Regions from separate parts of the Homo sapiens genome. Here region 2 is linked to region 1. Evidence: fine-mapped expression QTL. A gene starts in region 1. The other region holds a variant in brackets. All regions are shown on one strand. Distances are between the middles of the regions.

Region 1 (5,377 bases):
TGTAAGGCCAGGTCCTCACCTGTCATCCAGGTACCCGCCCATCATGTCATGACACAACAAAGTCCGGGGCCTCTGGCTGCTCAGAGGGGGCTGGCGACACGCCAGGGGCTCCAGGGCCACATTAAAGCCATCCTCCAAGCGGGGCTTCCACGCCAAGAGCTCCTCCAGCGAAGACAAGTAAAAGCTGATTGGTTTGGTGGTGTCCTTGTCATAATATCTAACTGGTCCGAGGACAGAAACATTGAGCAATTAATGGAAACTATTATAGGATTAATCGAAACATTTTAACAATAACAGAGAAGGAACATGAGAGGGGGCAGGGGCTGACCTGCCCCAAAGCCCCAGGTGTGAAGGTGGATCGGTATTCAGAGCCTCTGTCTCCTCACCTGGCAGGGGGTCCGGGGAAAAACTGACCACCTCTCGAAAGACTGTCTCTTCTTCTTCATCTTTGATGCTAAGCAAAGAGGGAGTTGTACATTTATAAATAAAAACATAAATAGGTAAGAACACTTAGAAGCAAATGGACCAGTTTCATCTAAACACAGAGAGATATTCTCTGCCTTATGTTGTTTAATATTAACTATAGAAACATTGTATAAAGCAAGGAAGTGCCCTGTGATAATCCTAAGGTTTTACCTATATTAGCAACCAGGGCTTGGCTTCCACATGGACACACGTACCAATGATTACTCCTAAGAATAAACCTTACCCTAGGCCAGACGCAGTGGTTCACGCCTGTAATCCCAACACTTTGGGAAGCCAAGGCAGGCGAATCACCTGAGGTCAGGAGTTAAAGACCAGCCTGGCCAACATGGCAAAACCCCATCTCTACTAATACAAAAATTAGCTGGGCATGGTGGCACACGCCTGTAATCCCAGCACCTTGGGAGGCTGAGGCAGGGAGAATCACTTGAACCTGGGAGGCGAAGGTTGCAGTGAGCCGGGACTGTGCCACTACACTCCAACTTGGGCAACAGAACGAGACTCCATCTCAAAAAAATAAATAAATAGAATAAACCTTACCCTCTAAAGCAGCCACCCCAATACCACAAAGACCAGACATAAATACTTCACAGGGTCCCCAGGATTTTCTATGGCCAAGGGGCAATATCCAAATACCCAAAGCACCAGAAAGTTTCAGGTCCTAAGAGAGCAGAGACCAGGCTTCCTCTATAGGCCACACTTCCCTAAGTGCCTTCCGCGCTGTTCATGGATGTATGTTACAGGGAGAAAGAGTTCCTTCGTTCCTTCGGTACATTAACATGGAAAGCTCCTAAATACATCTCAAACCACTTTCTTTTAAAAATTGATTGATTAATTGAGACAGAGTCTCGCTCTGTCGCCCAGGCTGGAGTAAGGTGGTGAAATCTCAGCTCACTGCAACCTCCAGTTCCTGGGTTCAAGTGAGTCTCCTGCCTCAGCCTCCCAAGTAGCTGGGATTACAGGCATCTGCCACCACGCCTGACTAATTTTGTACTTTTAGTAGAGACTGAGTTTCACCATGTTGGCCAGGCTGGTCTCAAACTCCCGAACTCAGGTGATCACACGCCTCAGCCTCCCAAGTGCTGAGATTACAGGCATAAGCCACCATGCCTGGCCTAAAAAATCATTATTATTTTAGGAGCAGTAAGAAGACACCGCAGTGGCTATTTAGAGGCCATGGCACCAACGTTGAGATTCCCTAAATCTACCAACGCCCAAGGCCACTTCTTTGTTCACTGAGTTGTCATCTGCCATCACTCCACTGCCATTCAGAGGCCTGTTGCAAAGAGTCCTCTGTAGCATCTGCCATCACCAAACACTGACCCAGGGCCTCCAGAATGACATTGGGAGACCCTGAGAACTGCAGGGGTCGGGGACGGATTCAAGCAGAGATGCCGCAGTTGTTCCTCTCCACCTTCCTTTTCCAAAGCCCCCTTCCTCGTTGATGTCCTTATTATACTTCAGCCACCCCCTCCCAGACCTTCTCAGAACAATCCCACACCAGGTCACCTTTGTCACCTGTCATTCCTCCACTAGGAGGGAAAGAGCCATCTCCACATTCCTCCTGTCCAAAAATATCTTTCCCAGCAGCCAGCCTTCATCCCATCTTCATGAGGTCTGAAATGCTCAGCAGTCTCACTGCTTTGGGTTTAGAAACAAAGCTACGGCTGCTGTTTCCGGAAGCCATGTCTGTGCTCCTAACTTCTCCCCCTGCAACCTACTGAGGGGGAGTTTACCGGGTGGGCAAGTGCCCCCCAAAGGAAGGAAGCCCAGCCCAGAGGGGCATGTTCGTCCCTTTCTGTCTCTGTGCTTTGGCCCTTTCTGTTCCCCGCCAGTTGGATACCCTACTCCCTATTCTCCACCTACTGAAGGCTTCCTCCTCCCCAAAGACTCAGTTCTAGTGTCACCCCTACAGAAGGCCACCCCTTCCACCAGCCGGCATCCACTGAGCCAGGCATGAGCACCGCCGCCGGGATCTTCCGCATAGACCAGCGACGTGGGAAGCAGGGGTCTGGCCGGGGCGTCGGGATTCCCGCTGGGCCCCGCGGCCACTCGGGTTTGCACCCGTATTTCTGAGATAGGCAGGGGTCACGCACGGGGGCCGGAGGCCGCTGCCCGGCAGTGGCGCGAGGACGGCGGGGCGGACCGGGGCGGAGGGGCGCTGCCACCCTCTGTCCCTTACTGTGCACGGAGCGGACACAGGCGCCGGCCCCCCGCCCCTCGGCGCGCCCGTGCCGGGAAACCTCGGGCCCCGGGGCCACGGACTCTCAGCCCCGCGGATCGGGGTTCACGCGGGCCCCGCAGCCCCACCTCCTTCCCGGCCGCCGCCGCCGCGGCCGCGGCTCCTGATCCTCCTGCTCCTCCTGCGTCCCCGCCTCCGGGGCCGCCAGCCCCTGCAGCTGCCGCCGCCGCCGCCGTGTAGCCGACCGGGTGACCGTCACCGCCGCGGCCTCCATGACACTGTCCGCGCACGCCGAGAGGCAATCGCAGGCCCGGGCCCGCCCCCGCGCCGCGCTCGGCCAATGGGAAGTGCGCAGCGCTGACGCCGCGCTGGGACGGGACTCCGAGCTGACTCCCGGCCAGCGGCCGCGCGGCGGGGACTTTGTTGAGGCGACAGGCCGGGGGCGGGGCCGAGGACGGGGCGGGGCTGTGAGGGGCGGGGCCTGGGCGAGTTCCGAGCCCAGGGTTCGTCGTCGTTCTTGTTGTTGCCCATCATTGGCTATGAGTCCAGGGTGCTAGAAGGCTCTAGAAGGCTTCGGAACGCCCCAATCTTAGAGTTCTCTCTTTAGCCTCACCAGCTTCCTTTGTCAAGCAAACCGAGGTTTATCCCAGAGAGATTAAGCAATCTCCCAGAGGGCACAAAGTCAGCAAATGGTGGCAATGAGATTTTAACTCATGCAGCTAACCCCTATTAAAAGATAATTTTCAGACCGGGCGCGGTGACTCACGTCTGCGATTCCAGCACTTTGGGAGGCCGAGGCGGGCGGATCACCTGAAGTCAGGAGTTCGAGACTACCCTGGCCAACATGGTGAAACCCCGTCTCTACTTAAAATACAAAAATTAGCCGGGCGTGGTGGTGCATGCCTGTAATCCCAGCTACCTGAGAGGCTGAGACTGGAGAATCGCTGGAACCCGGGAGGCAGAGGCTGCAATGAGCCGAGACGGTGCCATTGCACTCCAGCCTGGGCGACAGAGGGAGACTCCGTCTCAAAAAAAAAAAAAAAAAGATGAAAGGTTAGTAGGTTAGTATCGGGCCATGTGGAAGCTGGTGTCCTATGTAGGATGCATAGTTTTCCAGTGAAACACGGATTTCTTTCTACAGCCCCACGCCTGTGCCCAACAGTAGTAGTTGCTCTACCCCTAAGCGTGCAGGGCCTGGAGTGGCACCTCTGCAAGAGTGGCACTGCCCAGCGTCTTAGGCACAAAAGGAGTTCACAGGAAACATGATAGAACAGAGCCCTGAGAAGCCAGAACTCAAGGCTGGGCCCCACAGGGCAAACCAAGGCTCTCCTCCCTCCAGGCCCCAACGCCCCTCCACAGCTAGGAGCTTCCAGTGCTGGGCTGCAGCTGCCGCCCAAGCCAAGTTGACTGGGCCTTTATTATTGTTGCAGACTTTGAACTTTATGAGGCTCCAAGCTTCCATAAACGCCAATGGTGGGAACTATGACTAAGGTTGTTGAATATGGGCCATGGTGCAGGCCAGCCAGTTAGGCAGGAAGGACGGGCCACTCAGAAGCAGGACACGCTGACCCATGGGGAGGACAGAGAAGGCAGAGGGCTCCTCTTTGGGGCTTCAGTCCTGGGAAGCTTACAGTGAGCGAGGGCAGTGGATCCCCAAGTTCCCTCCTGCTGTGTTCAGGGGTGCACCGGACGTGGACAGTCTTGATCTGGGGTGCATGTAACCAGGTGTTCCCAAGCCCTCACCTGCAGCTTAGCAATAAAAATAGATAAACTTTCATCCTACCCAGGTTAGAACACAGTTCTAAGGGATACTTTGAACAGCCTTTGGGTAATGCTCAGTCTCTGGGAGAAAATATGCCCAAACCTCCCTTTTCTTCTCTCCTTTCCAAAGAGTAGGCACCTGGTCTAGAAGAGCAAGAAAGTGAAGGCAGCCTTGCACGCCCCTGAGGACAGAAAGGACTTAGGCCTTGTGGCCTCTTGTTAGCCCCTGTGGCTCGTGGTCTCTCTGGATGTCAGGCCAAGCCTGGAGGGGCCCTGTCTGCCTTGAGCTCACATTGGCTCATACTGGGGCTCTGGATCCGTTTGAGGCCTGAGTGGGCCCTCTAAAACCCTAACCTTCTGGTGTTTTCAGATAACATACAGAGCAATCAGTTAAATTTGAATTCCAAATAAATGATGCCTGGGACATAGGACAAGCTTATATTAAAAAGTTATTGCATATTTATCTAAAATTCAAACTGAACTAGGATGCTGTCTATGCATTTGCTAAATCTGGCATCCCTACCTGTGAATCTGAACTACAGCCTCGGCAGAGCCACCCTGCCCTGTTACAGGGGCCCCTCTGACACCTCCCTGCAGGCTCTTGGCTGTCCTGGGCTCTGCCCACACCAGTACTGGTTGGTTTGGGACAGCTGAGCCTCGGGTCTCCCTGCCTGACCATGCTGTCCCATCAGCTTCCTGTTGCAGGTCGTGACGCAGTGCATGCACTTGCCTCTGCACCCCCCCTCGCCATGCCCAGAGCGCCCGGAGTGGGGACCTAGAGTCACACCTGCTTGCTCTGCCTTCCTCTGCCTCCTCCTTCATGGCCTCCGGGGGAGCCGGAAATGAGAATCAGGTGAGTGGACACCACCTGGTCCCCGGGCTTGGTTGCTGATATGCTGAAGAGTGTGGCAGGAACTAATTGTCCCCAATATTCCTTCCGAGCCTGTCCTT
Region 2 (5,377 bases), 21 kb after region 1:
CTGGCATGTGCCACCATGCCCAGCTAACTTTTTGTAGAGATGGGGTTTCACCACGTTGCCCAGGCTGGTCTTGAACTCCTGGGCTCAAGAAATCCACCTGCCTCAGCCTCCCAAAGTGCTGAGATGACAGGCGTGAGCCACTATGCCTGGGCCAATAAAGTATTTTTTAAATTAAGGTATGTACATTTTTGATAAGAATTAATGCTGTTGCACACTTAATAGACTATAGTATAGCGTAAACATAACTTATACATGCACTGGGAAGCAGTGCTGACTCACAGCCCAGCATTCCCTACAGATGCTGCCACAATAAAAACCTAATGGTTATAGCCAGAACCCCCTCACCCCGATGTTTCCTCCTAGGAATTTTCCACCCACTGACCCCCACCCTGCTCCCCGGCTATAAATCCCCACTTGCCCAAGCTGTATTCTGGGTTACACCCAATCCCTTTCCTCCACCACAAGACCCCATTGCAATGGTCCCTGTACCTGTCTCAACAGTCCTGATAAGGTCTGCCTTACCATGCCTTAACAAGAGTCACTAAATAAGGTCTTCTTTAACAGTTCGGCCAGGCGTGGTGGCTCATACCTGTAATCCCAGCACTTCGGGAGGTCGAGGTGGGTGGATCACCTGAGGTCAGGAGTTCAAGACCAGCCTGACAAACATGGTGAAACCCTGTCTCACTAAAAATACAAAAATTAGCCAGGCATGGTGGCGCACACCTGTAATCCCAGCTACTCGGGAGGCTGAGGCAGGAGAATCACTTGAGCCCAGGAGGTGGAGGTCGCAGTGAGCTGAGATCGTACCACTGCACTCTAGCCTGGGTGACAGAGCGAGACTCTGTCTCCAAAAACAAACAAACAACAACAACAACAAGACAATTAACAGAGTTGTGCAGCTATCACCACAATCTAGTTTTAGAACAGTTTGTCTCAGCCGGCCATGGTGGCTCACGCCTGTAATCCCAGCACTTTGGGAGGCCGGGGCTGGTGGATCACAAGGTCAGGAGTTTGAGACCAGGCTGACCAACATAGTGAAACCCTGTCTCTACTAAAAATACAAAAAAATTAGCCAGGCGTGGTGGCATGCACCTGTAATCCCAGCTACTTGGGAGGCTGAGGCAGGAGAATCACTTGAACCTGGGAGGCAGAGGTTGCAGTGAGCCAAGATCATGCCACTGCCCTCCAGCCTGGGCAACAGTGCAAGACTCCATCTCAAAAAAACAAACAAACAAACAGTTTGTCTCCCCAAAAAGAAACCAACTAGCAGTCGTATTCTAATCCCCCCACCACACACAAGCAGCCTTGGAAACTTCTCGTCTGCTTTCTGTCTCCATGGATGTGCCTCCCCTGGAGATTTCATATAAATGGAATCCCACAATATGTGGTCTTCATGTCTGGTTTCTCGCACACAGTGTAATGTTTTGAGGTTCATTCCATGCTGTAGCATGCATCACTAATTCATTCCTTTTATAGCCAAATAATAGCCCATCATATGGACACACCACATTTTATTTATTCCGTTACCCACTGATGGACATTTGGGTTGCTTCCATTTTTTGGCTATTATGAATACTACTAGGAACATTGGAGTACAAGCTTTTGTGTGGGAGCTTGTCCTTATTTCTCTTGGGTATACACTTAGTGGAAGTACTGAGTCATGTGGAAACTCTATGTTTAACATTCTGAGAATTTTCCGACTGGTTTCCAAGATTATTATTTTCTTACTGGCGACATCCGTTGAGAATCGCCACCAAATTCACCATTATTCTAGGCCTGGATTCCTCCCTGCATCTCTCACCTTTCCTCTGCATTCATTTTCTCTCAGTGCAGGTTTTCCAGTGACAGAGTCTCCCAATTTTTGTTTGTTTGAAAATATCTTTTTAAAAATATTTTAATTGGAAATAGAACTGAGATGGACAGTTATTTCTAGCCCTTTAAACATTCCATTCCGCTATCTTGTGGCTTCTGCTCTTTTGCTTGTATTTGTTCATTCTCTTGTTGCTATAAAGAACTGCCTGAGACTGGGCAATTTACAAAGAAAAGAGGTTTAATTGGCTCACAGTTCTTCAGGCTGTAGAGGAAGCATGATGGCTTCTGGAGAGGCCTCAGGAAACTTTCAATCATGGCAGAAGGCAAAGGGGAAGCAGGCTGGTCTTGCATGGCCAGAGCAGGAGGAAGAGAGAGACGGGGAAGACATTTTGACACAACCAGATCTCATGTGAACTCTATCACAAGAACAGGGGGACTCAAGGGGGAACCACCCCCATGACCCAATCACCTCCCACCAGGCCCCATCTCCAACATTGGGAATTACAATTTGACATGCTTGGGTGAGGACACAAATCCAAACCACAGCAGAGGTCAGTTGTGATACTTATTATTGCTCCTGTGAAAGAAAATATTTTCCCCTCTGCTTTTAAGACTTTCTCTTGGTCTTTGGTTTTTAGTAGTTGTACCATGATATGCCATGCTGGCTGTGACCTTGGTTTTATTTGTCTTGCTTGGGATTCACTGAGTTTCTTGAATCTGTACCTTAGAGACTGATCAATTGGGTGATTTTTCTCAGCTATTTTATCTTCCAATATTTCTGTTGCCTTTTCTCTCTCATGTTGCCTCCTGGGACTCCAGTTGCACGTGTATTGGGCCTTCTTATTGTCACTTCTGTACTTTTGTTCTGTGTTTTCATCCTTTTGTCTTTCCATACTTCTTTCTAAATATTTTCTTCTGATTTCTCTTCTAATTCACTGATTTTTCTTTTCAGCTGTGTACAGTATGATGGTATATTTATCCACCAAATTCTTAGTTTATTTTTTTTTTTCTTTTTCTTTTTTTTTTTTT[C/TC]TGAGACAGGGTCCCACTCTGTACCCCAGGCTGGAATGCAGTGGTGCAAGCATGGCTCACTGCAGCTTCCACCTCCCAGTTTCAAGTGGTCCTCCTGCCTCAGCCACCCAAGTAGCTGGGACTACAGGCATGTGCCACGATGCCCGGCTAGCTTTTGTATTTTTTTGTAAAGATGGGATTTTGCCATGTTGCCCAGGCTCTTAAATTCATTTGTTTTGTTTTTCACTTCTAGAGCTTCCATTTGCTTCTTTATTATCACCACCATCATCACCATCATTAAAGTTTTCTGCCACAAATATCAATCCTTTTTTTTTACCTCCCTGAATGTAGCAAGCATAGTTATTTTATATTCTGATTGTGATAACTCTAAATGGTAAGAGTTTTTTCCCTCATGTGGTAGGCATTTAATACATTCTTGTGGAATATCTCAGTAAGCAGGATCTCAAGTTGCTTGGAGAACTAACTTAGTGGCTATGTCAATTGAGCGGTTGGAACATTTCCTGTCTTTAGGCAAGGAGGTTTCCAAATTTTCCAGAGCATATGGACTTCTAATCCTATCTATAAAAGTGTCTGAAGTAGAAATTCCTTGTCCTTGCCTGGCCATCTGCATAATGAGAAATGGGCTTACTCCATTCTGCCCTAGGAAGGGCAGGATATGGGAGCACTTGAGGTCACCATAGTTTCCCATCCCTGCCCCAGCTGTGGAAGGACTTTAGAGAGGAAGACATGGTCCTCAATTAGTCATTCCTTGTGGAATGCTTCCCCTGGCACCTGCATCAGCCTCCTGCTGACTCTGTGATCTCACCCACCAGTTGATTCAAAAATGCTTGTTCAACAATGTCCTTGGAAAAACTAACCCTGACACTCCCATCCCATCTCACTGGCCCTTGGCCCCTGTGCCATCGTAAGCCAAGCCCAGAACAATGGGACCAACTCTGAAGGTCATGACTCTGGAGCTCCAGGACTTTCCAGCCTTGAATAGAGAAGGCTGCGGCAGCCTAATTTTTTGGTTTTGTGTTACTTGTTTTGATAACTGCTGTTTATTGAGATATTATTTACATACCATAGAATCATCCATTTAAAGTGTAGAATTCAGTAATTTTTAGTTTAGATTTGCTTATTCTGGTCATTTCATATAAATGGAATCATGCAACGTATGGCCTTTTCTGTCTGGCTTCTTTCCCTTTTGATAATGTTTCTGAGGTTTACCAATGTTGTAGTAGGTAATAGCACTTCATTCCTTTTTTTTTTTTTTTTTTTTTTTTTGAGATGGAGTGAGTCTTGCTCTGTCACCCAGGCTCTGGAATGCAGTGGCACGATCTCCGCTCACTGCAACCTCTGCCTCCCAGGTTCAAGCAATTCTCCTGCCTCAGACTCCCAAGTAGCTGGGATTACAGGCACACACCACTACGCCTGGCTAATTTTTGTATTTTTTTAGTAGAAACAGGGCTTCACCATGTTGGCCAGGCTGGTCTCGAACTCCTGACCTTGTGATCTGCCTGCTTTGTATAGACACACTGCATTTGTTTACCTGTTCATCAGCTGAGTGGGCACTTGGGTTGTACCTGCTTCTTTGTTATTACTAATAATGCTGCTATGAACATCTATCTATAAGCTTTTCATAGACATATATTTTCATGTCTTTTGGGTATATACCTAGAAGTGTTATGGCTGGGTCAGCTGTAGCTCTATGCTTAACATTTTGAGGAACTGCCAGGCTGTCTTCTAAAGGGGACTCACCATTTTGTATTCCTGACAGCAGTTCCAGCAGCTCCATATCCTCAGCAACACATGTTATCATCTGTCTTCTTGACAACAGCCTTCCCATTGGTTGTAGAGTTGTCTCACTGTGGTTTTGATTTGCGTTTCCCTGATGATACACCTGTTCATGTGTGTATTGGTGGTTGTAGAGTTGTGTCTCACTGTGGTTTTGACTTGCATTTCTCTGATGATTACACCTGTTCATGTGTGTATTGGTTACTTGTATATCTCCTCTGGAGAAGTGTGGGCTGCTTTGCCCATTTTTAATTAGATTATTTGTCTTTTTATTATTGAGTTGCAAGAGTTCTTTATATATTCTAGATATAAGTCCCTTATCAGATATATGATGGCAAATATTTTCTCCCATTCTGTGAGTTGTCTTTTCACTTACTTGATGGTGTCCTTTGAAACACAGAAATTTACAAGTTTGATGATGTGCAGTTGATCTATTTTTTTCTTTTGTTGCTTGTACCTTTGATATCATACCTAAGAAATCATCACCTAATCCAAGGTCATGAAGATGTATGCCTGGGCTTTCTTCTAAGAATTTTGTAGTTTTGGCTCTAATATTTAGGCCTTTGATCCAAGGCCTAATTTTCGTATATGGTGTGAGGTAGGGGCCCAACTCCATTCTTTTGCATGTTGGGACATCGATATCTTGCATTATTTATTATTTTCTGTTACATTCTATTTTTTTTTAATAATCTGGGCAACAATGTCTCATCTTATGCTAGTCATTATGGCCCAATAAAATCAGCTTGCCATCACGCCACTG

What was found. PIP is the estimated chance that this variant, and not a neighbour inherited with it, causes the effect. A credible set is the group of variants that fine-mapping cannot tell apart.
Region 2: its variant is the best candidate, but not a certain one, in a credible set for the expression of ENGASE in iPS cells (HipSci, PIP 0.52).

Annotation. Positions count from the first base shown.
Region 1 is chr17:79,072,507-79,077,883 of GRCh38, reverse strand. It overlaps ENGASE (endo-beta-N-acetylglucosaminidase), which reads right to left and starts at 3,060. Exons shown (of 14, transcript NM_001042573.3): 1 at 2,794-3,060; 2 at 387-454; 3 at 20-221. The coding sequence starts at 2,939. RefSeq lists a silencer at 2,659-3,198.
Region 2 is chr17:79,051,644-79,057,020 of GRCh38, reverse strand. No RefSeq gene overlaps it. Among named protein-coding and RNA genes, the nearest start is that of ENGASE, 20 kb to the left of the region's middle. The variant C/TC (reference allele first, on the strand shown) is at 2,842.